3 linked regions of the Homo sapiens genome follow. The protein of the gene in region 3 purifies or fractionates together with the protein of the main gene of each other region. This does not show direct contact. Each region holds a gene or a part of one and is shown on either strand. Other genes may lie near its edges.

The links.
Region 1: the proteins of CD300C (region 3) and ATP12A purify together in Homo sapiens (affinity purification with mass spectrometry; 3 studies listed by BioGRID and IntAct, with this or other methods). This does not show direct contact.
Region 2: the proteins of CD300C (region 3) and FAM210A purify together in Homo sapiens (affinity purification with mass spectrometry; 3 studies listed by BioGRID and IntAct, with this or other methods). This does not show direct contact.

What each region holds. Positions count from the first base shown.
Region 1 is NC_000013.11:24,689,256-24,699,681, reverse strand, and holds part of ATP12A (potassium-transporting ATPase alpha chain 2), read right to left. Parts: intron 10,421-10,426; coding exon 10,307-10,420; intron 9,345-10,306; coding exon 9,210-9,344; intron 9,079-9,209; coding exon 8,961-9,078; intron 8,719-8,960; coding exon of another isoform or gene 8,701-8,718; coding exon 8,432-8,700; intron 7,254-8,431; coding exon 7,055-7,253; intron 6,896-7,054; coding exon 6,786-6,895; intron 5,239-6,785; coding exon 5,104-5,238; intron 1,025-5,103; coding exon 832-1,024; intron 1-831. UniProt on the Homo sapiens protein: The catalytic subunit of a H(+)/K(+) ATPase and/or Na(+)/K(+) ATPase pump which transports K(+) ions in exchange for Na(+) and/or H(+) ions across the apical membrane of epithelial cells.
Region 2 is NC_000018.10:13,666,039-13,676,464, forward strand, and holds part of FAM210A (protein FAM210A), read right to left. Parts: intron 5,936-10,426; coding exon 5,824-5,935; intron 676-5,823; coding exon 442-675; 3' UTR 1-441. UniProt on the Homo sapiens protein: May play a role in the structure and strength of both muscle and bone.
Region 3 is NC_000017.11:74,542,222-74,552,919, forward strand, and holds the start of CD300C (CMRF35-like molecule 6 precursor), read right to left. Parts: upstream 3,895-10,698; 5' UTR 3,562-3,894; coding exon 3,501-3,561; intron 2,727-3,500; coding exon 2,388-2,726; coding exon of another isoform or gene 2,285-2,387; intron 1,017-2,284; exon of another isoform or gene 956-1,016; intron 767-955; coding exon 640-766; intron 1-639.

The sequences.
Region 1 (10,426 bases), on a different chromosome or scaffold from region 3:
TTCTAAGGTTCCTTCCTTCCTGACACTTTGTCTGCATCACTGGCATCACTCTCTTCCTAGTCGTTAAATGGGAAGCTTAATCATTTTTAAACATTATCCTTCTCTGATAGGTTCTAAATCTTACCAAACTCTACCTCTATGAAGTCTCTTGCCCTGATCTCTCCTTCCCATTCCCATCACCCTGAAAAAATTCCCATCCCTTTTGCCTGAGCAAGGGCAGCTGCTTCCTATGGAGATGTGCATCTCTCCTCTCCCTGCTGCCGCCAAAGACATTTAAAGAAGTTAAAGAAATTTAACTCCTTCCATAAAGTCTTCCCCAGCCCTGCGACTGCCCAGCTCACTCTAGTGGCACAGCCCTCAGTGCTCTCTACTGACTGCAGGATGAAACCTGGCTCCTCACCCAGATGTTCAAGACCTCCATCTCATGACCTCCAGTCCAGCCCTTGAACCCTGTTTCTGTGACAGTGCCATCTCACCTGCTGGCAGCACCCAATGTGCCCCACGCCGTTCTGCCTCTGTGATTGGCCTGTGCTGTTCCCTGGGCCCTGGATACTTTCCCCTATCTCCCCTCAAATGCAGTCACTTAAGGCCCAGTTTGAAATTTAACTCCTTCCATAAAGTCTTCCCTGAGCTTGCCTCTCTGGAGGCCATCCCACCCTGCTTGGTGCTGTCACACAGCATCCTCTCCTTGTTCCCATCCTGCTTATCATGTTCTCCTTTACATGCTTCACGTGGATGCCATGGCCACTGGGCTAGGTCACAGGTCCTCAAGGCGCCTGCCTCATCTCTGTGCCCACCAGGTGATGGGCAGGGCCCTGCCGCCGCACTCACCCAGCACACGCTCGCCCAACCCGCCCAGCTCCATGTAGGCTGTGTGGAAGGTCTTGGCAGTGCTCTTGTCCAGTGGGTGCTCCTCGCCGTTGATCATGATGGTGCTGCATTTCTCTAGGATGCGCTCAGGGGCCCCCTTCATCACCATGAGGAAGCGCTTGCCGTGGGGGTCATCCATCTCGTGGATGGAGAGCTGGGAAGGAATGAACTGAGCGTGTTACTTACAGAAAGGTGAAACGCATTCCTTCTTCTCTACTGGTCCATTAAATGTAAAGGAGGAAGAGGCACAATGGCATCCTCAGCATGTTCCGCCCTTTTTCTTTCTGTGGCCAAGTAAGACGAAGAGCTCTAGACTTGGCCCCAGCCCAGAGTGGGGCACCCACTCTGGATAAGTGGAGCTCATCTTTCAAGCAAAACTGGCTGCTTTAGGCAGGCTAGTTGTGGCCGTCAGCGTGTGAAATCTTGTGCCTTGAACAAGATCTCCCAGGGTGCCCGTGAGAGTTAGGGGGCTGCGAGCCTCTGCATCTCACCTCCTCTACCTCCCTGTGGGGAGCAGCCGTCTTTCAGACCCAAACTATTCTGAGCTCAGGAGGGGAGGAGGCGACAGGAATTTCTGCACCTCCTCACCTCATTGTCCACCCAGTTTTCCTGCTTGGATGTCATAGAAAATGGCGGGGTGTGAGGAAGTGGACACTTCCACGTATAATGTTTCAGGAAGACAGCCGAGTCACAGGAGTCTCCATTTTAATAGGAATGCTCTTGACCCAGCAATTCTACTTCTAGATCCATCCTAATAAGATATGCAAAAAAAATCGATATACAAGAATAAAAGGACTAACTCTTATCTAGCCCTTCTGATAAGCCAGGTACTCTTCTAAGCACTCAAGAGGAATCTCAGGAAGCTGGAGTGTTTGGGAGAAAATAAGTTGCAAAGAAAAGTGCTACAATTTTGGGTAAAACAGTTCTTTACAAATCAGTATTTCTTAGACTTCTGGGTATCAAAGATGAGTACAAAAAGAAGTATAGGGCAAATAGGGTTACCAGCTGCTGCTGCTGCTTTTTTTAATGATCAAGTAAAGACATTGAGAAAACCAACCAACCAACAAAAACCAAACCAAACAGAAAACCTCCCAGCTCTATCACTTTCTAAAATATAGGCCTTTTCTTTTTCTTTCTCTCTTTCTCTCTTAAATTTTTTTTTTTTTTTTTTTGAGACGGGGTCCCACTCTGTGCCCCAGGCTGGAGTGCAGTGGCACGATCACAGCTCACTGCAGCCTCGACCTCCCAGGCTCAAGCAATCCTCCCACCTCAGCCTCCCAAGTAGCTGGGACTACAGGTATGTGCCACCATGCCCAGCTAATTTCGTTTTTTGTTTTTTTTGTAGAGATAAGGTCTTGGTATATTGCCCAGGCTGGTCTTGAACTCCTGGGCTCAAGCAATCTGCCTTCTTCGATCTCCCAAAGTGCTGTGATTACAGGTGTGAGCCACTGTACCTGGCCAAGATAAGGCTTTTTACATTTAAAACATAGGGATAATATGAAACACTTTTATGGTATGTACCACGTGCCAGGCACTGTTCTAAGTGCTGTCCACATCGACTTATTTATTCTCAAAACAACTTTAAGGCCATGGGTACTATTATTATTCCCTTTTACAAAGGAGGAAACTGAGGCACAGAGGTTCAATGCTTCACTCAGGGTCACTGAGCAATAGGTGGCTATCTGGTGGCTGAGCTGGGATTTGAGCCCAGGCTAGCAGGCTCCAGAGTCCCTGCCCTTAATCATGGTGGCTACAAAGGATAATCTTTTAAATTAAATACATTCATCTTTATATAAAACTTTATAAAACATTTTCCAATTTGCCGTAAACTGTTTCAAATGTCTTAACAGACCAGTGTGTTTGGGGCATCACCATTCTAATCAATAAGACACAGGCTTTCCATTTTATTTCCTTCCCGCAGAGACGTCTCCTTCCAAGGCCATGACATCTAAAGCCCTGGTGAGGCTGAGCACCGCTCATGTGTAGATATAAAATGACCCTAACAGCATCCAGACAGCACCTCCGACCTCTTCAGCAGGAACTCACACAGCCCCTCTCCCCTTTCTTTTTTTTTTTTTTTTTTTTTTTTTTTTGAGACGGAGTCTCGCTCTGTCGCCCAGGCCGGACTGCGGACTGCAGTGGCGCAATCTCGGCTCACTGCAAGCTCCGCTTCCCGGGTTCACGCCATTCTCCTGCCTCAGCCTCCCGAGTAGCTGGGACTACAGGCGCCCGCCACCGCGCCCGGCTAATTTTTTGTATTTTTTTTTTTAGTAGAGACGGGGTTTCACCTTGTTAGCCAGGATGGTCTCGATCTCCTGACCTCATGATCCACCCGCCTCGGCCTCCCAAAGTGCTGGGATTACAGGCGTGAGCCACCGCGCCCGGCCCCCCTCTCCCCTTTCTAGTCCCACTCTGTGTAGCCACTTTCTCCTCCAACTTGTACATGAGGCCTCATGGAACCTGCTTTTTCTCCCTTTTGCAACTGGGCATGCCTTTACCTTGGGAGATGGAGCTTCAGCAGGGCTCCAAGTCCTGCTGCTGATGGAGGCATCATCTAACCCCATCTTCACACTGTGCACTGATGCGCGGCACCTCAACCTCCTCATCCTCTAGCCACCCCACAGTGTTGTCGTGCGAATGAATAATTTAATACTTGTGGAAATTAGCACAGAATAGCTCCTATTATCACTAGTATTATTAGTATAATAATACTCATCCTAAAACAGTCTTTTAGGACTGTTGCGCACTCTATTTTCACTTTGGTTTTACGTAAGAGATGTGGTTTCTTGGCTTGAGTATTTTACATCATATGTTTCTGGTTAGTTGTCTATTTAGCTAACTGTGATTCTCTGTTGGCTCACTATCCACAAAGAAGACATTTGCAACACAAGAGTTCTTCTCTAGGCTGGGCTTGGTGGCTCACGCCTGTAATCCCAGCACTTTGGGAGGCCAAGGCGGATAGATCACCGGAGGTCAGGAGTTCGAGGCCAGCCCAGCCAACAAGGTGAAACCCTGTCTCTACTAAAAATACAAAAAAATTAGCTGGGCAGGGGGTGCATTCCTGTAGTCCCAGCTACTCAGGAGGCTGAGGCAAGAGAATTGCTTATACCTGGGAGGCGGAGGTTGCAGTGAGCCGAGATCGTGCCACTGCATTCCAGCCTGGGTGACAAGAGTGAAACTCCTTCTCAAAAAAAAAAAAAAAAAAAAAAAAGAGTTCTTCCCTAACCCTAAATTCCATCCGAACTAAGACAGGTGGATAATCACCAGAAATCTCCACACGTACAGTTGTGGTTATTCCATTTCTATACTTTACTGTTGTGCAAAGCCCAAGTCCAGATCCAGTGTGGGCTCTGTGGAAAATCCCATCTGCATGGGGACCTGGGGCTCCCAACTGTCATTTGTCTTAACATGGGGAGGCTGTGATGGCTGACTGTCGGCCAGCCCTGCTTGCTGAGATAACCAGGCAAGGAAGGCCGTCTTCTACCTGAGCAGGGGATGGAAAGGAGACCCCCACCCACAGCACAGGGGCTGGCCCCAGAAAACGACGGGGCTGTCACCCCAGGGGCTGCTCACCGGTCTCCCCAAAGGGCAGGGCTTGCTCCCATGGCCTGAACTGTGCCGCACTCCCTCTGTGTGATGGTGGAAGAATCGTGGACCTGGTGTCAGGCTTGGGAACACTGGGTGCTGTGTGACTCTGGTCTCTCAACACTTTCTAAGGGCCTGCTTCCTCCTCTGAGTCAGGATTCGTCAGTCCTACCTCACAGGCCGGATGCGAACATGGAACAAGGCCACGTAGGTCGAGGGCCTGATGCACTAGAGGTGAGAGGAGCAGGTGTTCGGCCTCCCTGCTGCCCACCTGGCATTTATGCTTTGGAGTATGGCTGCTGCTCCTCACGGCAGAAGGTACCTGATAGTGGTGGTGTGAGTGTGTGTGTGTGTGTGTGTGTGTGAGAGAGAGAGAGTGTGTGCCTGTGACAGAGATGGCTCATTCATAGGAGCAGCCAGGCCCTGATGAAGTCCTTGCCTTTCTTTCTTTCTCTGCCCTGCTTCAGGGTTAGGAAGGAGGCCAGCAAGGGAGCTTGACCTAGGGGACCAGATGCCTGGGTGCTGTATCCCTGACGACTGTCTTTGAAGCCAGGTATCCTTCAAAATATGAGGTAAGCAAAGGATGCATGCAAGTAGAAAGGTCATGCTGCCGATGACAGAGATTACCGGTTGTGAGGAAAAACTCACCTGAAATTTATTAGTAGAGTTAAAAGGGATTTCAGCTACTTTGCGGTTTCTTTTTCTAATTTCCATCACATCACCCAAAATGACCTCTGAGAATTTTAAAAGAGCAGTTTCTGAGGCATCTCCAATCACAGCTTTCTGGGAATCAAAGAAGAAAAATATTTGCAGCACATATTTAATGAACCAACATGCCCTCAGCATAGGACCCAAAACACACCCTCCTGATCCCATTACCACCTAGCTGGAGAGACATTATCACGTGATCAGGGAGGGCCGCAAGACCGTGGTAAGCGTGTAAACAACAGTGCCACCTACTGGCATTAGGGATGTTTGGAGAAGCTGGACCTCTGCGAGGACTGAAGATTTCGTGGAAAAAAGCAGCTACGAACTAGATCTTGATAGATAGGTGGGTTACCGATACACAGAGAAGAAAGCCTTCCAGAAACCAGGATGCGGGTGCAGGGGCATGAGGGGCAGGCTCGTCCGTGAGTGTTCAAGGTACAAGCGGATGTGGAGGGTGTGGCAAGACCTGGAGGGCCCTGAAAGGTAGCCTGAGGTCTAGACTTGAGAAGCAGAAAACAGGGAAGTACGGAGAGATTTTGAGCAAAGTTAAGTGACTATAAAAGCACCATTAAGGGAAATTAGTGGCATTCGAGAAAGACCCCAGGAGGGATAAACCGGAATCAAAGAGGTTTAATTCCAATCAGCCGGTAATCGGCTATTTAGATGCAAGGTACTGCTGACAAATACTAAAGTTATGTATATTTTGAAGCAAGAATGATAGAACTTGGTGGCTTACTGGATATAAGGAAAGGATAAAGTCAAAGATGACTTCCAAATATTCTGTTCCAATGACAAATAGAATGGTTATATCATAGACAATTAGAAAATTGCGGCAAGGCACTGATGTGCAGCCAGGCTGGGTACGGGTGGAAGTTAACAAGCATGATTTGTGCAACTTCCTAGCGGAAGCACACAGCCAGCCAGAGATTCGGGTTGGAGTTGAGGTAAGAAATTAGAGCTGGACATAAAGATTTGGAAGATATCGACAAAGAAGCAATTGGCCAAAAAGAGCATTCATGAGCTGTCTGACGGAGAGAAAAGCAAACAAACAAACAAAAAAATAAGAAAGAAAAAGAGTCAGGGAAGGAAACAGATGGCAAATAGAAAAGCCAGGAGAACAGGGATTCAGTGACTCATTGAGATGGAGAGGAAAAGGGAGGAAGGGAAGGAGGAGAGGGAGGGAGGGGGAGAGTTTATTGTATGTTCCGATATTCCAGGACCCCTTAGAGCTTTGTCTGCAGCCATATTCTAGTTAACAGGAGTCCTTTTATTTTTATTCAATCACACTTTAAATTTCCATGAATGGTGTGTATATTAAAAGGAACTTTGATTATATCCACTTAGCTGGCAGAAAAGTCAGGAAAGTAACTTAGAAGTGCATTCATTTCCAGAATTTTCTGAAGACGCTAAAGCAATATTCTGAAACCTTTTAAGCATCTTTGTATTCTCAAAGCTAGTGTGCATAAAGAAAAATTTCTGGATGTCTTGTGAGTCTGACTTGCTCTTGCAAGCACTGAACAAACTTTAAGCAACTGGAGAGATGAAATCAAGCACCCAATCAGACCTCAGCAAGTGACTACAAACTGGCTGTGATTTAAGACCAAGTGCTGCAGAAGCATTACCTTCATGATGGGGACATTTTCCTGTCCTGGCTTGAACTCTGCTCGGTTACACAATGTTATTATCTTGGATAAGGAGGCCCAAGTCCTAGAGCTTTGGTCAAAGACTTGGTCTGGAAGACAGAGAAAGAACAGTGGCTGCTGTGGGTTGGGCTGGCCGTCCATGAGTCACTGTCCAGCAATCCTCTGGCTGCAGACCCTGCTGTGTGCTCAGCTCAGCCCCAGGATGGAGTCCACAGCTTTGGCCAGACCGAGCTCTCCATAAGACTTACTTGAATGGTCCTCACTGGTGTCAGCCACAAAGATCTGATTGTCGAACCACAGATGGGCCACTGTCATCCTGTTCTGGGTCAGTGTCCCAGTCTTGTCCGAGCAGATGATGGAGGTGGAGCCGAGGGTCTCCACAGCCTCCAGGTTCTTCACCAGGCAGTTCTTCTTGGCCATCCGTTTTGCTGTCAGCGACAGGGTCACCTAGCAGGAGAGGGAAGGACGCTTTGGGAAAAATCCTCATTTGAACTCAGGTCCAATAATACAGAAATAGCCAATGTGAGCTGTGATTGAATTTTAGGAGAGAGCTGGACTAGTTTTAGGGGAGAGGTGTGGTTGTCAGCGCAGCTAAGCTGACCTGGTGGCTTATACGCCGCCAAGAGCCCTCTATGCCACAATCCTTTTTTAAAGATTAAATATGAGATGCTTTTCTTGTTCCTTCATGACTTGAAGAAAACAAGGGACCCACGGGCAGCAAACACGGACACGCTGCTGTGGCTCGTGTTCACGTACAATCACGACGCCTCCTGTGATCCCTAAGCAGGAGTGTGTAAGAGAGACTGACCAGTGCATGCCAAAGAGTTGTCCCAAAGGACACACTTGTTGCTTTGGGGAATTCAGCAGCCTTTATGTTGTTTCATTTTAAAAGCTCCATATTTTAAAGATTCTTTTAAACCCCTAGATCTCAAAGGGTTCTTTTGGCTCCAATTTCCCCAAATTACTATCTCCTGGAGTCAGAGGAGACCTGGACTTCAAAAACTTCTTCTCTTTTCTTTGGTCAGGACAATAGCAGGCCAATGATCATGTAGTCACAAAACTGGAAACATAAACCCCCTCCTCTCCTACCCCTTGAGACCCCCACAGGAGAGACTGAGGAGGAGGGGGCTCTTCTCTAGGGACTGAATGACATGGGCCCATACAAACAGCTGGGTCTGGGGTTGGCCAGGAAAGGGCTGGAGTCCTCGGCAGGAAAAATGGGAGGAATTTTTTTTTTTCGTAAGAGAGGTAAGTGGAGTGTGGCAATGTGCCTAAATGCCTAAGTTGTAGAAACTGCCAAAGAAATGTGCGGAAGGCATCAAGCTTCTAGAAAACCTGTGAATGGTGGAGTCTGTCTTATCTAGATCTTATGGGGCAGAGTAAGCTGTGTGAATTGCAGATTGAAAGCATAACGTTTTCAAGGAAAACGCAGTCAAATATTGAAAATATGACAAATTTTTTGTCTCTGTAAGGAACAGTCTATGCAGAATGTTCCAGGGTTGTCGCTGGCGGGGAGGGCGTGGTGCTCTGGACTTGGGGGAGATTGCAGTTTGTGTGGGCGCCTCCCCAGCACCAGTGCTGTGTCCACAGGGCCAGGTGCAGGCTGTCTAACAGCATGGACTCACAGTGACAGTGGCCAGGAGGCCCTCGGGCACATTGGCCACAATGATGCCAATGAGGAAGATGATGGAGTCCAGGACTTGATACTTCAGGGACACAGCGATGATGAAGAAAAGGATGCCGATGGAGACAGCCACTCCTGCCACAATGTGAACAAAGTGCTCGATCTCAATGGCAATGGGCGTCTTCTCATTTCCAACTCCTGAGGCCAATGAGGCAATATGGCCAATGATGGTGCGGTCACCCGTGTTGATAACCATGCCGGTGACAGTGCCTACAGGGGAAGTAGATGCTTTATTCCAGGGGTCCTCAGCCAGGAGGGGTGTGCAGCCAGCTTGCAGCCCTCTCTGGGGGCTGGCACAATCGATAGGCACACCACATTCCCAAGGCCAAGCATCGTCCTCTAGGCCCTTCAGTTCCATGCTTCCTCTGGGATGAGCTTTGTAACGGGGTGTGGCAAAGGACAGACCTGAGAGCCCAGGAGGGAGAAAGGACACAGGTGGACATGTGGGCTGAGAGCCAGAGGCCTTTTACCTTCCAGACACGTTGTGGAATAGAAGCAGATGTTCTTTGTTTCCAGGGGGTTTTCATGGGTAAACTCAGAGGAGCGGGGCTGGGGCTCAGACTCCCCCGTGAGAGATGAGTTATCCACCTAGAAGAAATGTTGAAGGTGGTTCACAGCTGGGTACCTCATTCCCTGCCTCTTATACTGATGCTGGGAAAGACCCCAGAGCCAGCAGGTTTGGAACATGGTCCTTGGGGTGGATACCCCTTGCCGCTTACCCGACACCCCTGAGAAGACAGCACCCTGATGTCTGCAGGGATCTGGTCTCCTCCTTTGACCTCCACAATGTCCCCCACCACCAGCTGCTCTGAAGGGATGGTCTTCTTCTCGGAATCTCGGATGACGAGAGCTTGCTGCAGAAAAAAACCATGACAGATGCCTCAGACCCTGGAAGGACACCGGCCCTCCCCCAAGTCTGTGCCGCACCGAACCCCAGGACAGAGGCCTTGGAACTTCCTGATCACTCTCACTGTTGAGTCCATGCTGTTATGCAGCCTGCACCTGGCCCTGTGGACACAGCATTGCTGCTGGAGCATGAGGCTGTCAGAACAGCAAGAATGAAACAGAAGACTGCTTCACCCGAGGCCTGAAGACTCTAAGAACTACTTTTTCTTGAGCTTATGGAGAGTTCTTGGAACAGAAGAGTCGCTGTTGGCCAGATCTGGCCAAGCCAGAGCCCTGGGCCTCCTAGAAAAGGAGACCACTAAGGGTGAGCAATCCTGGCTGGGCGTCTGGGCAGAACACTGAAGGTGGGGCTGGGGAGGCTGATAATCTTGCGAGTGTCAGGGAAATTTTAACGAGGTGATCTCCTGCTTCAAGCTTGGCAGGAGGCGTCTTTTCCACCCAGAATCTCTCCAGCCCACAGTTCTCTGGGCCAGAGACAGTGTGGACACCTGACAGGGGTTTTTGGGGAAGAAGGGAGCACTGGGCTTCCCCACCAAATGCATTCTGGGGCTCAGGAGCAAAAATGGTCACAGATAAACAATTGCAGGCTGGTCTCCTTGGCTGCCAGTGAAAGAACACTCCCTGACCTTCCACAGGTCCCTTCCAGAACCCAGAAGGACTATCCACAAACACTGAGGAGCAGGAACAGAAGATGCCTTGGGCTAACCAGCACTGCCCTGGGTGGTGCCTCATTTGACCATCAAAATCCTGTGAGGAACTGGGGTTCTGACAGATGGGTTAATTCGCCCACGATTGCTCCGACAGGGAAGGAAGTGGAAACCCGTAGCCCTCAGGGCCCTGTGCCCCTCCCAGCTGAGGCTTCCTCACCTGGGAGTCACCAGAGGCCAGAGGATAGGTGGCTGCCACTCACCTGAGGGATCATCTTATTGAAGCTGGACATGATGTTGGTGCTTTTTGCCTCTTGGTAATAAGCAAAGATCCCCGTTAAAATGACCACCAGACCAAGCACACAGCCCAAGTACACCTGGGT
Region 2 (10,426 bases), on a different chromosome or scaffold from region 3:
CTCCAAATTACGTACTGAATATAGTTAAAATCTTAATGAATAACATAAAAATTAAGATCCGGTATTAACAGACTATTTTATGGGTCACACTGGATATTCAAGGAGTCAGCTGCCTAGTATGTGTCAATTACAGCTGCAACAAAACAGAAATCAAGTGTGGTTCTGAAGACCTTGAAAAAGAAGTCTGACTTCTAAGACATTAACCACTGCTTAATACTGCTACTGATGGCAAATTCTTAAACTGGGTTCATTTCTTCCCTTGTAATAACACTGATTTTTCTAGTGATATTTAACTTTAAAAAGGTATTTTACTTCTTTAACCCTCAGAGAACTAGTATATTTCGGCAACTAACCAAAAAAATAATCAGACACATGTATCTTTGCCCATAGTTTCCAAAGGGTTAAAGTGCAGGAATTTTCTATACTGCTATATAAGGCACCTTATTCCACTTTTTTCTTAAAGGAAACTTTTTCTTTGGTTTCTTGTAACTTTTCAGTGAGTCTATCTTTTGTTTCTTCCATTTTCTCTGTGATAAGCTCCTTTGTCTCTTCCATCCTGTCCTGCAGATACTCCTTGACGGGTGGCGGCGTGGACATGTAGCCATGACTGCGCAGATACTTCACAGTGACAGATGTTCCTCCCAAAGTCACGGTATACCGAGCAGGTGTTGCAATCTTAAGCAAAAAGCAAACAGAGGCAAATCAAAACCTGGTTATTACTGTCATCTTAAGCAAAAACAAGTTAAAATTAAAATTCTTGGTAATAACCCATCAGAATAAATTGCCTCATTGTTTCACAAAGCTAATGTAGTAATATCCTATATGGTTTTCCCTCCTAACAAGAGATATTTCTTCTGTAAACTCATTTTATGAATGTTTGTCCTCTACACAATCCTGACCCAGATAACAGAATCATAGCACTGATGTCCCTAATCGCATGCTAGTAAACTTGGGGGACAGGTCAACCTGGAAATCAGAAAGAGGACTCAGTACCAGTAAAAATAACAGAGGAACACATGTTTCTATTCCTTAAAAGCCCTGCCATCCTGCCAAATGCTTTCTATCTGGAGCTAAACTAGAACTGAATGTCTTCAAATGGTGAGAGGCAGAGCATGAAACCACTCTCTGTTGGGATTTAGGTTAGCTTCACTTCCAAATCCCTTTCCTTTGACTTTTCTAAACCTATGCTACCTTCTCATCACAATCTACCCTGAGTCTCAAATCCTAGCCACTAATTTACACAAGGCCAAAAGTAGTAAAATGGCACACCTGCTGCAGACATGCACAGGTTTAACGTTAATTGGAACTTTTAGGACCAATACTAAATAGCAGATGGATGACTGGTCAAAGAGAACCATACAAGTAAAAAGGCTGCATCATATTCTAAGTCAAAAATCAGGTTGGGTGCAGTGGCTCATGCCTGTAATCCCAGCACTTTGGGAGGCTTAGGTGGGTGGGTCACCTGAGTTCAGGAGTTCAAGACCAGCCTGGCCAACATGGTGAAACCCAGTCTCTAATAAAAGTACAAAAATTAGCCGGGCGTGGTGGCAGGCACCTGTAATCCCAGATATTTGAGAAGCTGAGGCAGGAGAATCGCTTGAACCCGGTGGCAGAGGTTGCAGCGAACCGAGATTGTACCATTGCGCTCCAGCCTGGGCGACAAGAGTGAAGCTACCTCTCAAAACAAAACAAAACAAAAAACATAGGTGTTGGCAGGTACAATGGCTCACGCCTATAATCCCAGCACTTTGGGAGGCTCAGTCGGGAGGGCTGCTTGAGCTCAGAAGTTCAAGACTAGTCTGGGCAACATAATGAGACCCTGCCATCTCTTAAAACACAAAGAAAAAGAAAGAAGAAAAAGAAAAGAAAAATACTTAGCCGGGAGTAAGTGGCATGTGCCTGTAGTCCCAGCTACTTGGGAGGCTGATGCAGGAGGACTGCTCGAGTCTAGGAGTTCGAGGCTGCAGGGAGCTGTGATTGCACGACTGCACTCCAGCCTGGGAAACAGCAAGATCCTGTCTCAAACGAAACAAAACAAAATGCATAGGTGTGTTGTATAACAAAACTTTGAAAGAGCTGTCTGCTCTATCTCTAATTTCTCTCCTAAACTCACGTTAAGCAAGCTTTCACCCATACCTCTTCACCAAAACTGCTTTCAAAGTCACAGTGACCTCTACAAAACTAAATCCAGTTGTCAATTTGGAACCAGCCCCTGAACCACTGGAACCATCCCACACAGCTTTCACCTTCCCTTCACTTGGCTCCAGGCCCTCAACTTGCTGGGCTTCCTTCTAGTTCATGGCGGCTTCTCATTTTTGCCAATTCCTCCCCTTTCACCCACCTCTGAACGTGGTGTGACAACATTCGATCCCTGGACCTCTTATTTTCTCTACCTATCTCACTCTCTGGTCTTTAGTGCCAACTATACATGGATGATTCTTAACTTTAATCTCCAGACTGAACTTTTCCCCTGAATTCCAGTATATACAACCACCTCCATTTGCATATCTAATAAGATCTCAAACTTAATGCAGGTGAGTCACTTAATGGGGATACGGTCTGAGAAATGTGTCATTAGGTGATTTTATTGTTGTGTGAAACTTCACAGAGTGTACTTACACAAACCTAGATGGTGTAGCCCTCTGCACACTCAGGCCACAAGGTATAGCCTATTGCTCCTAGGCTACAAACCTGTACAGCACACTACTGTGCCGAACACAGTAGGCAATTATAAGACCACAGTAAGTATTTGTATACCTAAACTATCTAAATGTAGAAAAGTTACAGTAAAAATATGACATTCATAAAAACATGGGACCTATGGGACCATCACTGTCTGTAGTCCATGGTTAACCGAAATGCTGTTGGGTGGCACATGACTGCATGTTCAAAACTGACCTTCGGATCTTCGACTGTCCTACTTCAAACCTGCTTCTCTCAAAGTCTTACTCATCTCAGAAAATGGCAATTCTATTCTTCCAGTTGTCCGGGCCAAAAACTTACAAGAAAGCTTCAACCCCTCTTTCTTTTCCATAATTTATATCCAAACCATCAGAAAACCCCAGCAACCACGTCTTTAAAACGTATCGAGAATCCAACTACTTCCTGCTACCACCTGGGTTCTGGCCACTATTGCCTCTCAACTAAAATACTGTAATCACCTCACCTCACACCAGGTCCCTTGGCTTCTCCCCTGATCCCGCCATGGTCTGTTACTAGAGCAGCCAAAGTGATTTTGATGGAACAGAGGCAGGATGCTTAAAATTGTCCAGTGGCTTTCCATGTCCTCAGGGTAAAAAGCAAAGTCCTTTTAAGGGCCAACAAGGCTGTCCTGATCTGATGACACGCCATTCTCTGCCCTGTTCACTGATTCCGGTCACACTAGCTTCCCTGCATCCCTCAAATACTCCCAGGATCCTGCAGCCTCAGAACTTTGTCTTTCGGATTTTCTCTGTTTGGAATGCTCCTCCCTCTTGGAGGAGCAACTCTCTCACCTTCTCAGCAAGGTGTGCCATCTCCCATTGAAAAACAAATCCATACCCCCATCCCTGGTTTCCTTTCTTAGCAGTTACCATCATCTACGTACACACACTTTGTGTGTGCATGCATTTCTAACTTTACCTTGTCTCCCCAACCCACTACCACTCACTACACTATCAGCCCTATGAGGCAGGTATTTTGCACTGTCTTCTTTGATTCGTTTATTCCCAGTACCTAGAATGGTACCTAGCACACAGCAGAGGATGACTAAAACTCTGGGTGTATTTCAAAGAGATTATGAGGCAGTCAGTGAATATATCCCGTAGCCAACTGCCACCAGACCATACATGCCATACTTCATTTGGGGACTTTGTCTTGTTGAAGCAATAAATCTGTGTCTGTTGCTCTATTTGAGAAACTGGGGGTTACAGATAATACAAAGGAGAATCCCCTCCATATCTCCTACTTCACAGAGGAATAGTGAGGGGGAAGAAACACCACTGGCACTCATCTCCCTACCATGACGCCTACAGCCTCATTTTCAATCCCAACTCCACAAACACGTGCTGAGCATTTTATTCACCTACAGAACATAATACCAGGTGCAGTGAAAAAAAACAAGAAAGAAGACATGATTCTGAGTTCCTGGGAGCTCCTAATCAAATAAAACAAACACTTAACACCTAGCACACACTGTGCTATCAACTGTCATGCTATGGGAGTGGGATAAGGAGCAATTAAATTAGGGAAGGTTTACATCAGCATGATAGTTTGACTTACTCGGGTTAAAATTATACCCACCATAATTAGAAACTTGATAATTTTTAAATTTAATACACTTTAATGTAGAAAAACTCAAAAATTAAATGTTAGCCCTCTCATCAAAATTATAATAAAAGAGGAAATCTACCAAGATTTCAGAGGATGCTAATGAGGATGACAGAATGAAACAATGCTACTTTTGAGTAATGCTGTAAAACTGTAATTCTTAGATATTCTTATACAACAGAAGTAAAATAAAACATCTAGTTTCTGTGTTTTCAACTTCCTTAGGTAGAAGTTTCACAGACCCTCATAAATATTTGTCAGTTTAGAAAATGAGATTAATATGGCTAAACTCCACAATTTACAGTGAGTCTTCCCTTCCAAAATAAAGACCCATAGGCATAGAAGCTATCAAGATGATGCTGTCAGGCCGGCTGCAGTGGGTCTCATCTGTAATCCCAGCACTTTGAGAGGCCGAGGGCGGGCAGATCACCTGAGGTCAGAAGTTTGAGACCAGCCTGACCAACATGGAGAAACCCCGTCTCTACTAAAAAAATACAAAATTAGCCAGGCATGGTGGCACATGCCTGTAATCCCAGCTACTTGGGAGGCTAAAGCAGGAGAATTGCTTGAACCCGGGAGGCAGAGGTTGCGGTGAGCCGAGATCGCGCCATTGTACTCCAGCCTGGGAAACAAGAGTGAAACTCCGTCTCAAAAAAGTTGTCTGAATCCGGAGAATAGTTACAAAGATTATCAACTTTTAAAATGAAACATATGTTAGGTTAAAATCTAACAGAAAAGGGTTTATCATATAAGACAATTTGGATTAAACCTATTTTACTTGCTAAGAAAAGATGAATTATTAAAAACAGTAAAATAGGGGGATCTCCTCTTTTGGCTTTGGAGGCCCCCCCCTTCTGTCTCTGTACAGGGGAGCTTCTTCCTTCTCCCTTCCTTCTTGCCCCTTCTTGCCTATTAAACTCTCTGCTCCTTAAAACCACACACAAAACAAAACAAAAAACAGTAAAATAAATGCTAAATTTTGCTAACAAATCAGGTGGCATGCAGATCACTGAATAAGAAAAAACAAATATAATTATACTTAAAATAATTATATCTCCATTTATCAACGGGAGCAATGTCAAACAGATGACTACTACCATGGAAAATCACATAAGTCTAACAATTATTTGACCACAGGAAGTTATGAATGATCTACCAATTTTTAAGGCATTTCTTCCTAAAACCACATTTTTACTTCCACTTTATTTTGTTATCTTGTTATCTCCCAGCTACTCGGGAGGCTGAGGTAGGAGAATCACTTTAACCTGGGAGGCGGAGGTTGCAGTGAGCCGAGATGGCATCACTGCACTCCAGCCTGGCAAACAAGAGCGAAACTCCATCTCCAAAAAAAAAAAAAAAAAAATTATCTTACATTATTCACCAGACATATCAGAGATGAAATACAGCGTTTCAAGTTACGAAATACAATTGGAAGCTAACATGGAATCTCATGGGAAAGTGAGCAGGTCACCACCAGTGAGTTCTGAGGAGCAATGGGTTTGTTACAGTACCCACCTTAAACAAGGCATATGCTGTGAGGGCATTTCCACTCTGGGAGTTTTTCAGGATGCTTACCACACTGTCAGGTAACCCAATGAGTTCTAGAAAAGGAACGACATTCACTCCTCTACAAAAAAAAAAAAGTAATTTTCATATGTACAAACTTTTAATGATATTTTCAAAAATTATCTGAAAATACCAAAACCACACTATAATTTTATTAAATTTTGCTTAAAAGTTGATTCTACATTATCAAGCACTTTACCTTCACTCTAAGAGAACATCTTACTTGATGTACAATATGCAACATGCACACAAACATCACATCACACGGTATCTTATCGCCTACAACTTCTATTTGCTTCATGTGGGCATCCTAGTATGTTTAGAAAAATAGAGGCAGTTATTAGAATAAAATTAACAGCTTTAAATAAACTATGAGAAAAGGATCAGAATCATTTGCCTGGTCTTAGTTTCCTCAACCAAATACCACTTCCTTAGAATGCTCCAACTCACATTTTAAGACCTAAAATTTTTACCTTTAAAATTACATGGTTTGTTAGTTTGTTCTGTTCTGTTTTGAGACAGAATCTTGTTCTGTTGCCAGGCTGGAGTGCAGTGGCGCAATCTTGGCTCACTGCAACCTCTGACTCCCTGGTTCAAGCGATTCTCCTGCCTCAGCCTCCTGAGTAGCTGGGATTACAGACACGCAACCACCACGCCTAGCTAATTTTTGTATTTTTAGTAGACATGGGGCTTCATCATGTAGGCCAGGATGGTGTCCATCTCCTGACCTCATGATCTGCCCGCCGCAGCCTTCCAAAGTGCTGGAATTACAGGCATGAGCCACAGTGCCCAGCCAATTACATGTAATTTTATGTGTAAAATTGCACTGTAAAAGCAAGAGATATTTTAACATCACTTTAGTCTGTTATTATGCAAAGAATAAACGACACTATGGGTTTGATGAAAACTTCAATTACTCTAAAAGGATGCTTCTATTCTATTAAAAGACTTAAGGCAGGTGAAGGAGCAATTAACATATACCGCGACAAATTTCTGGAGACAGGAGAGAAGGCAGAGAAAGTCTCCAACTTGAGCCGCAACTTCTCCGTTTCCAGCTTCCTGATTATTAACATTCCTGAGACCCGACTTCTTTTATTTCCAGTTTCCTGATTATTAACATTCCTGAGCCCTGGCTTATTTCCAGTTACATTCCTGAGCCCCGACTTCTTTATTTCCAATTTTCTGATTATTAAGTCTTGAGCCATGACTTATTTCCAGTTTCCTTATTAACCTTCCTGAGCCCCTGACCTATTTCCAGTTTCCTGATTATTAACATTCCTGAGCCCCGACTTCTTTATTTCCAGTTTCCTGATTATTAACATTCCTGAGCCCCGACTTCATTTCCAGTTTCCTGATTATTAACATTCCTGAGCCCCGACTTCTTTATTTCCAGTTTCCTGATTATTAACATTCCTGAACCCCGACTTCATTTCCAGTTTCCTGATTATTAACATTCCTGAGCCCCGACTTCATTTCCAGTTTCCTGATTATTAACATTCCTGAGCCCCGACTTCATTTCCAGTTTCCTGATTATTAACATTCCTGAACCCCGACTTCTTTATTTCCAATTTCCTGATTATTAACATTCCTAAGCCCCGGCTTCTTGATTTCCAGTTTCCTGATTATTAACATTCCTGAGCCCCGACTTCTTTATTTCCAGTTTCCTGATTATTAACATTCCTGAGCCGTGACTTATTTCCAGTTTCCTGATTATTAACATTCCTGAGACCCGACTTCTTTATTTCCAGTTTCCTGATTATTAACATTCCTGAGCCGTGACTTATTTCCAGTTTCCTGATTATTAACATTCCTGAGCCCCGACTTATTTCCAGTTCCCTGATTATTAACATTCCTGAGCCCCGACTTCATTTCCAGTTTCCTGATTATTAACATTCCTGAGCCCTGGCTTCTTTATTTCCGGTTTCCTGATTATTAACATTCCTGAGCCCTGGCTTCTTTATTTCCAGTTTCTGATTATTAACATTCCTGAGCCCTGGCTTCTTTATTTCCAGTTTCCTGATTATTAACATTCCTGAGCCCCGACTTCTTTATTTCCAGTTTCCTGACTATTAACATTCCTGAGCCCCGACTTCATTTCCAGTTTCCTGATTATTAACATTCCTGAGCCCTGGCTTCTTTATTTCCAGTTTCCTGATTATTATAATTCCTGAGCCCTGGCTTCTTTATTTCCAGTTTCCTGATTATTAACATTCCTGAGCCCAGGCTTCTTTATTTCCAGTTTCCTGATTATTAACATTCCTGAGCCCTGGCTTCTTTATTTCCTGTTTCCTGATTATTAACATTCCTGAGCCCCGACTTTATTTCCAGTTTCCTGATTATTAACATTCCTGAGCCCTAGCTTCTTGATTTCCAGTTTCCTGATTATTAACATTCCTGAGCCCCGACTTTATTTCCAGTTTTCTGATTATTAACATTCCTGAGCCCTAGCTTCTTGATTTCCAGTTTCCTGATTATTAACATTCCTGAGCCCCGACTTTATTTCCAGTTTCCTGATTATTAACATTCCTGAGCCCTAGCTTCTTGATTTCCAGTTTCCTGATTATTAACATTCCTGAGCCCCGACTTTATTTCCAGTTTTCTGATTATTAACATTCCTGAGCCCTGGCTTCTTTATTTCCTGTTTCCTGATTATTAACATTCCTGAGCCCCGACTTTATTTCCAGTTTCCTGATTATTAACATTCCTGAGCCCTAGCTTCTTGATTTCCAGTTTCCTGATTATTAACATTCCTGAGCCCCGACTTCATTTCCAGTTTCCTGATTATTAACATTCCTGAGCCCTAGCTTCTTGATTTCCAGTTTCCTGATTATTAACATTCCTGAGCCCCGACTTTATTTCCAGTTTTCTGATTATTAACATTCCTGAGCCCCGACTTCATTTCCAGTTTCCTGATTATTAACATTCCTGAGCCCTGGCTTCTTGATTTCCAGTTTCCTGATTATTAACATTCCTGAGCCCCGACTTCTTTATTTCCAGTTTCCTGATTATTAACATTCCTGAGCCGTGACTTATTTCCAGTTTCCTGATTATTAACATTCCTGAGCCCTGGCTTCTTTATTTCCTGTTTCCTGATTATTAACATTCCTGAGCCCTGGCTTCTTTATTTCCTGTTTCCTGATTATTAACATTCCTGAGCCCCAACTTCATTATTTCCAGTTTCCTGATTATTAACATTCCTGAGCCGTGACTTCTTTATTTCCAGTTTCCTGATTATTAACATTCCTGAGCCCCAGCTTCTTTATTTCCTGTTTCCTGATTATTAACATTCCTGAGCCCTGGCTTCTTTATTTCCTGTTTCCTGATTATTAACATTCCTGAGCCCCGACTTCATTATTTCCAGTTTCCTGATTATTAACATTCCTGAGACCCGACTTCATTTCCAGTTTCCTGATTATTAACATTCCTGAGCCCTGGCTTCTTTATTTCCAGTTTCCTGATTATTAACATTCCTGAGCCCCGACTTCATTTCCAGTTTCCTGATTATTAACATTCCTGAGCCCTGGCTTCTTTATTTCCAGTTTCCTGATTATTAACATTCCTGAGCCCCGACTTCATTTCCAGCTTCCTGATTATTAACATTCCTGAGCCCTGGCCTCTTTATTTCCAGTTTCCTGATTATTAACATTCCTGAGCCCCGACTTCATTTCCAGTTTCCTGATTATTAACATTTCTGAGCCCTGGCCTCTTTATTTCCAGTTTCCTGATTATTAACATTCCTGAGCCCTGGCTTCTTTATTTCCAGTTTCCTGATTATTAACATTCCTGAGCCCCGACTTCATTTCCAGTTTCCTGATTATTAACATTCCTGAGCCCTGGCTTCTTTATTTCCAGTTTCCTGATTATTAACATTCCTGAGCCCTGGCTTCATTATTTCCAGTTTCCTGATTATTAACATTCCTGAGCCCAGGCTTCTTTATTTCCAGTTTCCTGATTATTAACATTCCTGAGCCCTGGCTTCTTTATTTCCAGTTTCCTGATTATTAACATTCCTGAGCCCGACCTCTTTATTTCCAGTTTCCTGATTATTAACATTCCTGAGCCGTGGTAACTTCTTTATTTCCAGTTTCCTGATTATTAACATTCCTGAGCCGCTGACCTCTTTATTTCCAGTTTCCTGATTATTAACATTCCTGAGCCGTGGTGACTTCTTTATTTCCAGTTTCCTGATTATTAACATTCCTGAGCCCCTGACCTCTTTATTTCCAGTTTCCTGATTATTAACATTCCTGAGCCCCGACTTCATTTCCAGTTTCCTGATTATTAACATTCCTGAGCCCCGGCTTCTTTATTTCCAGTTTCCTGATTATTAACATTCCTGAGCCCTGGCTTCTTTATTTCCAGTTTCCTGATTATTAACATTCCTGAGCCCTGGCTTCTTTATTTCCAGTTTCCTGATTATTAACATTCCTGAGCCCCTGACCTCTTTATTTCCAGTTTCCTGATTATTAACACTCCTGAGCCCTGGCTTCTTTATTTCCAGTTTCCTGATTATTAACAGTCCTGAGCCCCTGACCTCTTTATTTCCAGTTTC
Region 3 (10,698 bases):
CAGCTCAGCTCTCAGCTCCTCAGAGGACTGGGCTTATCAAACAGGATGAAACTCTGGCCAGGGCTGCGAGAGAGGCAGGGGAGAGGACCAGGGCCACCGGACCCCAGAGCATCTGCCCCCTTCCCTGGCCTGGCCAGGTCCCAAGGCTCCTCGCAGGACATTTGCCTCACTCCTCCCTCCACCTGGACCCTTCTTCCTCCAGACCCCAGAGTGCCCAGCCCCCAACCCTTGAGGTCTCTGTGCTCATGTCCTCTAATTCTCAAACCCTCTTCTGATCATCGTCAGTGAAATAGCAACTCCAACACCTGCACACGCTCTCCCCAAACCCAAGAGTCAAACATCTCATCCCAGCATTCATTACCCTTTGCTGTATTTGTACATCAGCCTCTGTGCTGACTTGCTCAATGCGTGAATCCACGCAGTAGAACTCAACTTCCACCAGGGCAGGACAGTGGCTGTGTGGTTCCCTGCTGTGACCCAATCCCAAAAGGAGCGCCTGACACTTAATAGAACCTTCACGTTTGGTGTGGGAGGTGCGAACAAAGAAGGGACTGGAAGAAGGGACATCCGAGTCCCCTAAACATCACACGCAGTGGGGAGGCCGCCAGCGTGGCCCAGTCCTATGCGCAGGCACCTTACCCAGGGTGTGGGCTGGGTTCGGGGCTGTCCTTTCTGGTCACGCTGGGCCAGGTGTGCACGGGCAGCTTCGTGGGAGGACCTGAGGTGCCCATGGAGCTCTGGGGGCTGGAGGCTGTGGTCGTCCCGGCTGTGGGTGAAACACAGGTCAACCTTGATGACATCACATGGGTCTCCCACTTACTCTCACCTGTTCTGCTCCAATTTTCACAGACAAGGTCACCAATGATGTGCTGGACAGATGCCCTGCATCCATCATGCCCCACGGCCACACCCAGGCCTGACCAGGGTCCTGGGCCTCTCCTTGTCCCATCCCTAGGTACTGCAGAGCCAGGACACCATTTCAGATGTGAGAGCTGCCCTGCTCACCTGTGGCAAAGGTACGGGTCTCCAGGTTTCACCCCAGCCAGGGAGGGACAGGGTGACCTGGGGGAATGGGGTGATGTTTACTCTGCGAAGGGTGACCCAGAGTGACTGCGAAGCCAGGGCCCTGGGCACAGCAGTGGCTGGAGAGAGGCTGGAAGTGAGGACAGGAAGTCAGTGGGGTCCTCCCTGAACGATGGGACCCGAGTCCACTCAGCCCCAAATGGCAGCCATGCTGCGGCCCCACAAGGCCATTGGACCATCCTCTCAGCAGGAGGGAATGCCCAGGAAGAAAGATCTAGAGAGGGGATGCCCGGTGAAGCCTGGGCGGCGGCCCGTGGTGAATACAGCTGGATAAGGGCCCTTTCCTCCTCTCCCTGGCGCCCTCAGGTGGGATCTTAGCTCCTCACTCCTAGATAGGAAGGCACAAAGGGCGCAGGAGGGACACGTCGCCCCCGGGGAAATGGAGAACAAGAAGATGCTCCGAGGAACCTGGGACATTGTCAGAAGAAAACGATGGAAAAGCAACCACACTGAGGCCACTGGGTTTGTGTCTTGTGAGACAGGAGGGGGCCTTTGAGGGAAGAATGATCTTCGGCACGGGAAAGGGCCCTCAGGTCCGTGCCAGTCTCAGCTCATTTCCATCCACAGGTCCCTTTGCCTGAGGGGGCAATTTCTGGGGTTCCCTCCTGTGGTAAAAGGTGCCAGAGAATAAGGGGGACACACAGGTCAGCCTCAGGGGCAGGATGTGGTTCCCAGGAGCATGAGAACCCCACCCAGGGCTCTGGGGCTCCTTCCTGTGTCCTCCAGTGGCTGCTGCAGGAGCTCCCAGGACAGGGCTGTGAGGCTGCGGCCTCAGGACCCTCCAGACAGGGCGGCATCCATGCAGGCCCCAGGGCAGGGGCAGCCTTGAGTGAGAGGAGCCAATGATGGGGGGGTCCAATTCCCCGTGGGGAAGAGCGAGTTAGACCCAGGCGGGACAGTGGGCACCCTTCAGTATGGATCCGGCCCTTGTCAATACAGGGAGGTAGCAAGGACCCCAGAGTCAGGGGTGGCCTCACAGACCCCACCCAGGAAAGTTTCAGGCCTGAGGCCGTGAGGGAGGGCCCACAGCGGGGGGTCTCCAGCCACAGGGCCAGGGTGCTTTTGTGGGCGCCCACCCTCCCAACACACACATGCAGGTGCACACACACACAAACCACACCACAACTCCTATGCAGGCACGCATACACAAAGACGCACTCACACTCATCCACACACAGCGGCACACAGTGTCCTGACTCACCAACCCCCAGGCTCACACCCTCCTGTTCCACTTCTTTCTTCAGGGACAGAATGACCAGCCCTAGGCTCAGGCAGGCCTGGTGCTGAGAAAAGGAGGGGCTCACCCGGGAACACGGACACCTCAACCTCGACAATGGGATCATGAAAGTCTCGGAGCCACGGTGTATCCACCCCACACCAGTAGGTGCCTGCGTCCTCCTCTGTGAGATTCTCCAGGGTCACTGTGAAGCTGAGGTTTGCAGGACTGTCCCTGATGGACACTCGGCCATTCCTTTTCCCTGCTGACCCTTTGGTCTCCACAATCTTGTCACATCGGAGAATCTGTGGTGGTCTGCACCAGAATTTGTTGAGGGTCCTGTGTTCCTTCTCATAGCGACACTGCACACTCAGGGATCCCCCCACGGGGCCCGCCACGGTCATGGGGTGGCTCAGAGGAAAATAGCCTGAAAAATACAAGCCAAAATCCTGTCTCCTTACCAGAGGGGCCTGGTCAGGGGTGCCGCAGTGTCAGCCCCTCATGGACCCTGGGCGTGTGGAGAAGGCAATGGCAGGCAGGCAGCCTTTGTCCACCCAGGAACAGGGACTGAGGGTGGGAGGCTCCCTCTGTGCAGAGGTGGGAAGGGCATGGGAAGTTTCCATGGAGACTGGAAAGGCAAGGCTAGGGAAACACTGGGTGTGTGCGGGCCTGTGTGTGCATGTGAGTGTGACTCTGTGTGTGTGACTGTGTGAGTGTGACTGTCTGTGTGAGTGTGACTGTGTGTGACTGTGTGTGCATGTGTGACTGTGTGTGCATGTGAGTGTGACTGTGTGTGCATGTGTGACTGTGTGCATGTGTGTGTGAGACTGTGTGAGTGTGACTGTGTGTGCATGTGTGTGAGACTGTGTGAGTGTGACCGTGTGTGCGTGTGAGTGTGACTGTGTGTGTGATCGTCCCAGATAAAATTTGTGATTGGATAACTTTGGCAATGACAGTCACAGCATCACCTCCCACCAGGGCTTCCTGTCTCGGGCACAGAGGAATAGGCCTCCCCCGTGCTGTGCCCTGCCGCCTGCTGTCCCCTGGTGAGGCAGCTGCTGACCGCTCCTGGGTGCTCCTTTGCCCTCCTCCCCTCTCCCTGCCCCACTCCCCTCTATGACCGCTACTCCAGCGCCTGCACCCCTCCCTGCCCTCTCCCACTCAGGACAGAGCTCCCCAAGTCCAGGGTCGGCCCACTCACCTGGGACAAGCAGGAGGAGCAGAGCTGAAGACCGCCACGAGGCCCAGGCCCTGGCAGTCATTCCTGTAACACGAATGTCACCTGCCACTGTGCAAGACCCCAGGAGGGGACAAAATGTAATCTCCTCCCAGCAGATCTGAGCTTCGCTTCTGCTTTTCTTCTGCTCTCTGCTTCCTTGTCCAGCCCTGTCTCAGGTCTGAGGCTGGAGAGGGTCAGGGTACAGGAAGCTCAGGGAGAGAGCCGCCTGGGCTGAGGCCGGTGCTGACAGCTCTGGGATGGTGCTAGTGGCTCCTCTCAACCCTGACGTCTGGCAAAGTCCAGGGTCCCTTGGGTGGCGATGCAGCCACTTCCCCACAGCCCACAGCTTCTGGCTTCAGTGTGTTACTCACACTGCAGAAGGCAGAGCCAAGCTGGGCCATTTCCTACCACATGGGCTGCTCCACCCTCTGTGACATGTCACTTCCTGGTCAGGATGGACAATCTTGTGGTTGGAGGCTAAATCTGCCACCTTCTTTAGCCTTGGAGGTGACCAGAGAGAGGTTGTGTCCCTTAATCTTCAGCTAGGTCCCCGCAGAGACCTCTGCCCCTAAGACCCCCAGCTCTTCTTCTGGCCTCAGAAGTTAGCGCTATGAACCCAGACACCATCTGCATGTCCCTTTTTGGTGCTGAGTCCCCAACCAGGTTAAAATCCCACAGGCTTGGGGAGTTTTCCTCTTGTGCCCCTGCCCCCAGACCTACACACACAGCGGCATCACCCACCCGAGACCCTCCTTTTCCATCTTGTCTTCTTGCCAAAATCCATGCCCCAGTGGGAATCAGGGCAGAGAACTGAGAATAGAGAGAGAGTTCAGACATGTGAAGATGCTGAAGTGGGACTTTGTGGAGGATGTGAGGCTGCGACTGAGCCAGCACACACCCCAGGGCACACGGAGGGGTGTTTGGTGACTGAGAGGACAGTTTGTCATGAGCAGCGGCTGCTGGTGTCTATCCTGGGTCCACTGTGATGGCCAGGGGCCTCCGCAGGGAGCAGACATGGCAGACAGGCCTTCCCAGGAGGCGGGAACCCAGGTCTATCCACACTCGGCATGGCTGGTTCTCCTGACGTGATGGGCTCAGGGTGTCTTTACCCTGGAAAGGGCAAGGAGGCTAGTCAGACACAGGATTTACCTCCTGTCTGTCCTGGAGGGCATCACCCCTTCTCCACCTTCTCATGCCTTAAGCATATTCCTTGACTCTCCCAACCCTCCTACAGATTTCTGTTCCTTTCTTCCTATCAGAGTCAATAGCACCAGTATGTGCACACAGCCATGAGGTTGAGTGGAGAGTGATGGGAGTCTGGGCAAACCTGGCACCATGAAGGGGTCTCTGCACCCTCGACCTGCCCTGTCCTCCCTCCATTTACACTCTCAGGGACACAGCATGCACTGGGGTCATTGGTGTTGATGCCCCCAGACTCACATCATGGGACTATCTCTAGCCCAGTGCAATCCCAGGGCCTCCAATTAGCCCAGTGCTCAGGTCTGGCCTGGGCCTGGCTTTGAAGTATCCCGGCTCTTTCATGGGCTGACCTGGTCTCCCCTTCTGCTCATACCCACCCCTTTCATTCTCCACAGAATCAGCAATGTGATCCCTGACACACACACATGGCCCTGGGGAGGCGCTGCTGAACTCCCAATGGCTCCTGCTGTCACAGGATGGCACCCACCTGACCTGGCCTCTGCACACAGGTCCTGGCAGGCCCCAGCACCTGGTAGGTGTCTCCAGCCTCCTGGATCCAGGTTCACACTGGTGCTGCCACCCTCCCCACTCGGGCCTTTGTCCAGACCCTCAACCTCCCACTCCTCTGCCTGGCTCCAGCCGACAGGGTTGCCTGCGTGTTCCTTGACCTTCCCGGGTTATGGTGGCTCGCTTTTTAGGGGTCCTCATGACCCATTTCACACTTCCCTCTCGTCTTCCTCAGTCTTTCTGTTGGCGAGTCAATGTCTGCTCCCATCTAGGGTGGCCGCCCCTTGAGAGCAGGTGCAGCCTCTTGTCTCATTCACAGCTGTGCCCGTTATCATTCCAGAGTCTGCCAAGTGCAGTTTAACAAACTGGCTGTTGAAAGGATGAATGGGTGAATGGATACATGACATCCTGATGTCCCACTGCCTCAGAGGACTTAGTCATCCAAAGTTGGTGCACCATTTCCTGCCCAGGCTGGGGAGGAGACAGGAAATGCTGTCTGGAGGCCCTGAAGCCACCTGACCCAGGGAGGCATCTGCCCCTGGCAGGACATGTGCACCTGCTCCTCTCTCTGCCTCAGGGCTCCTCCTCCAGGGATCCTGGCGCTCACCCCCTCCTTTCTCCTGATCCCTGCTTGCTCAGCGCCTATTAGAGGGGCTTCACCACAGTCCCCCTCAGCTCCTGCACAGCAGTCACCCCACTTCTCTTATTTCATTCCGTGACTCTTTTCATCTCTGACTTTTATATTTCTTCTGGAATTTATGCACGTATTTTTGCATCTGTTTATCATTTCTATCCCCCGCCTGGAATATGAGCTCAATGAAAACAGAGCTCCTTGCCTGGGTGTTCACGGCTGGACTCCAATGCCAGGTCAGTGTCTGATACACCAGAAGCTCCCATAAGTATCTGCTGAATGTAAAAATAGGTGAGGACCCCCAGGCGTGTCCCTCCTTGACCTGGTGGACTCATGGGGATCATCTGCCTCACAGGGGTCTTGGGTGTGGCATCCCTGGAACCGAAACGATGGTCAGCTGATAACGTCTTCCTTTGTCTGGATAAGCAGACATGGTCTGCACTAGTAAGCAAAAGACTCAGTTAACTACCACATTAAGAAGTCACGGCCCTCAACCAATTTCCATATTTGAGTCAGTTAAAAGCCACAGCCCTGGAATGAAGGGGAGGTCAGGTCCCCTTGAGGAAGGAGGAAGGAAAGGCCTGGCTACCATGCCACAACTCACACTGATAATCTTCTACCAGCCCTCCCGCAGGGACCAGAAGACACTGGCCAGGATGTGTCTACATAAGGAACGGAATTGTCAGGTTTTGGGGGGAATCCTGGATCCTCTTCTGCAGGGACCCCAGTCCTGAGAGGCCCAGCCTGGGGCTTAGTCCACTATTCTGAGCAAAGGCCTGTGGAGATCAGGGAACAATGGAGTTTTCACCCAGGTCTGACTTAGTGGGCATGATAGGTCCAGAATCTATGTATTGTCATTTCTTAAAGTTCGAAAGCATCATTGAATTGACACACTCAGCAAATGGAAGCAGCCACATATTCTGCACTCCTGGACCCGGGGAGTGTGGGCCATTATGGTGGCAAAGGTGCAGGGGAGTCCTGGACCTGCTCCTCCCTGTGAAAACGTTGAAGGAAGCAATGCCAAGCTCCTGGAGAAATGGAAAGGTGCAGAGAGGGCATCAGGCACTTAGAGGTGTTGGTGACAGCTCGAGGTTCAGCTGGCCAGGGCGTGCACATGAGACATGGAGTCACAGCTCAGGGCGTCTGTGTCCATCAGGTTCACGTGTGATTCATGGATCAGGCACAGGGAAAAGGCTGAAGGAGGCTCACAGAGAATTCCAGGAGATGTGGAGAGAGCAGCCCGGGAGGGAGTGGTCAGGAGGTCATTCCAGTCCCGCAAAGGGGTTCTGTCGCAGTGCAGGGCCTTGATGGACAGTAGATGCTACTGGTTCTCACCCTCTGGCCAACTCTGCCTGCTTCCAGAGCTTCTCTGAGGTCCGTTCACCCAGACGACGGCACCCAGCATGCTCAGGAGCAGGGGCAGCTCCAGGACCAGGAGCAGGACGTAGGGGCTGCTGAACAGGGAGCTGTGGGGACACGGTGATGGCAGTGAGTCATCTCCCCAGGGGAAGCCCAGGTGCCCTCCACCTTCTGCCTGTCTGTGAACCCAGGTCCTGTGGCCACACAAATCCCTGTGAGGACAAACTCTGTATATGACAACTCCTCTAAAGAGATCATTAGACCCTGACCTTCAGCCTGAGAGTCCCTGGAGTCTCAGGACTGCCTATAAGGAAGCACGTGGCCGTGAAAATGGTGCATGAGGACAGGGAGGGATCCAGGTGAGAACCACACCCACAAGATCTCTACATCCCGGGGTTATTCACTGGCGCATGGAATCAGTCATGTAGTTTGATGCCTGTATGGCCATCATTTCCCGAGAAGGTGAGGACTATTCATGTTATTCACAAGTAACTGGTACCTGCCCTCTGGTTGCAAATATCAGCCTGTAAAATTCATGGTTGTTGAAGGAATGGAAGGAATGAATGAATGGCCCAGCTCAGCTCTCAGCTCCTCAGAGGACTGGGCTCATCAAACAGGATGAGACTCGGGCCAGGGCTGCAAGGGAGGCCAGGGGAGAGGGCCGGGGTCACCGGGCACCAAAACATCTGCCCCCTGCCCTGGCCTGGCCGGGTCCCAGGACTCCCTTGCAGGACATTTGCCTCACTCCTCCCTCTGCCTGGACCCCTCTTCCCCCAGACCCCAGAGCGCCCTGCTCCCAAATCCTGCAGGTCTCCACGCTCATGTCCTCTAATCCACAAACCCTCTTCTGATCATTGTCAGTGAAATAGCGACTCCAACACCCACACACATGCTCCCCAAACCCAAGGCACAAATATCTCTTCCCAGCAGTCATCAAACTTCGCTGTATTTGTCTGTCAGCCACTGTGCTGACCTGTTCACTGTGTGAATCCACCTGGTAGAACCCAAACTCCACCAGAGCAGGACTGTGGCTGAGTGGTTCCCTGCTGTGACCCTATCCTGACAGGAGCACCTGGCACTTAGTAGGACCTTCACATTAGGTGTGGGAGGCGTGAGCAAAGAAGGGACCAGAAGAAGAGAGACACAACCATCCCATCTCTCCCCAGCCTACAGGAAAGGCTGCCCAGGTGGCAGTCCTGGGGGCACGAACCTTACCCTGGGTGTGGGCTGGGATCAGGGCTGTCCTGTCTGGTAGAGCTGGGCCAGGTGCACGCTGGGACGTAACGGGAGGACCCGAGGTGCCCGTGGAGCTCTGAGACTGGAGGCCGCTGTCAGGGCTGCAGGGGCATCACAGGTCAGTCTCGGCGACCTCGCCTGAGTCTCCCACTCATCATCACCTGTTCAGCTCTGATTTCCACAGACACGATCACTCAGTACATGCTGGACAGATGCCCTGAGTCCAACACGTTCCACGGCCACACGCAGGCCGGACCAGGGCCCTGGGCCCCTCCCTAGTCTTATCCCCAAGTACTTCATAGCCAGATGAGCACTTTCAGAGGCAAGAGTCAACCTGCTCTCTAGGGGAACGTGAGAGTCTGTGGAAAGAAGACCTGGCTGCAGACCCCATCCCAGCCAAGGAGGGAGGGGTGACATTCACTCTGTGAAGCGTGACCTAGAGTGACTGCGGAGCCAGGGCCCTGGGCATGGCAGTGGCTGGAGTGAACTGGAAGTAAGGACAGGAAGTCAGTGGGGCCCTCCCTGAATGATGGGACCCGAGTCCACTCAACCCCAAATGTCAGCCAGGCTGGTGGCCCCACAAGGCCAGACACTTTCAGGGTGGGGCACACAGAGGAGTCTCCAACAACAGGTGCAAATGTGCTTTTGTGCATGTCAGCACACACACACACGGGTGCACACACACAAACACACCACACAATTGTGCAAGCACACACACACCACACCTGCGCACGCACACACACACACCACAAACACAACTCACACCTGTGCATGCGTGCGCACACACACACCTGTGCATACACACACAGCAAACCCATGCATGCACACACAGACACTGTGTCCTAAGTCACTGCCTGCAACCTCACACACTCCTGTCCCATTTCTCACTTCAGGGACAGAATGACCAGCCCTAGACTCAGACAGGCCTGGTGCTGAGTGAAGGGGGCTCCCCTGGGAACACCGACACCTCCACCTGGAAGACAAGGTCTTGGAAGACAAGATCTTGAAATTCTTGGAGCAATAGTCTATTGACCCCACACAAATATCCACCTGCATCCTCCTCTGTGAGGCTCTCCAGGGTCACTGTGAAGCTGAGGTTTGCAGGATGGTCCCTGATGGACACTCAGCCATTACTCACTCCTGCTGACTCTCCAGCCTTTACAGTCTTGTCACATAGTAGAAAAAGTGGTTGTCTGCACCAGTATTTGTTGAAAGTCCTGTATTCCTCCTCATACTGACACTGCACATTCAGGGATCCCCACTGCGGTGTCTGTCATGGTGCTGGGGCCGCCCACAGCAAAACAGCCTGGAAAATACAAGCCAAAGTCCCAGCTTCTCCTCAGATGGGCCTGGGTCAGGGATGTTCTGGGGTCAGGGCCTCTCGGACCCTGGGGTTGTAGAGGAGACAGTGGCAGGCAGACAGCCCTTGTCCACCCAGGAATCTGAACTGAGGGGTGAGTAGCTCCCTCCCTGCAGAGGTGGGAACGGGGAGGGGGGTTTCCATGGAGACAGGAAGGGCATGGACTGGGAAAACACTGTGCGTGTGCATGCCTGTGTGTGCACGTGCATGCATCTATGATTGTATGTGTGGTTCATCAAGATGGCATTTCGGATTGGATAACTGTGGCAATGACAATCACAGGCACCTCTCCCCCAGGGCCTTCTCTGTCGAGGATGCAGTGGAACATGACTCACCTGCGCTGTGCCCTGGAGCCTGGCACTCAGCTAGTGAGGCAGCTGCTGACAGCTCCTTGATGCTCCTCTGTCCTCCTGCCCTCTCTCCATGTCCCTACTTCCATGTCCAGGGCCCACCCACCTGAGACATTCAGGAGGAACAGAGCTGCCAGTAGCCGAGCAGCCCGATCCCTGGTGGCCTCTTCTCAGATGTCACTTGTCACTGCATCAGGCTCTGGTAGGACAAGGTGGAGTCCCCTCTCCCAGGGTCTGAGCCCCACTTCTGCTTTCTTTCCCTATCTGCTTCCTTGTCCAGCCCTGTCTCAAGTCTGAGGCTGGAGATGGGAGATTGCAGAAAGCTCAGGAGAGAAGCTCCCTGGGCCGGTGCAGGCACGCCTAGACTCAAGGGGCCAGGGACCAGGGGCCAAGGTGCAACCAGGATCTGAAGCTCAATGGGCAGTTCCAACCAGAGCAAGTTTCATCCCTAAAGACAAGTGCCCAGGGCAGGGGGCATCCAGGCAGGAAAGAGGAGGACACATCTGATTCTGGCCCATGGCTTCCGCTATATTGAGA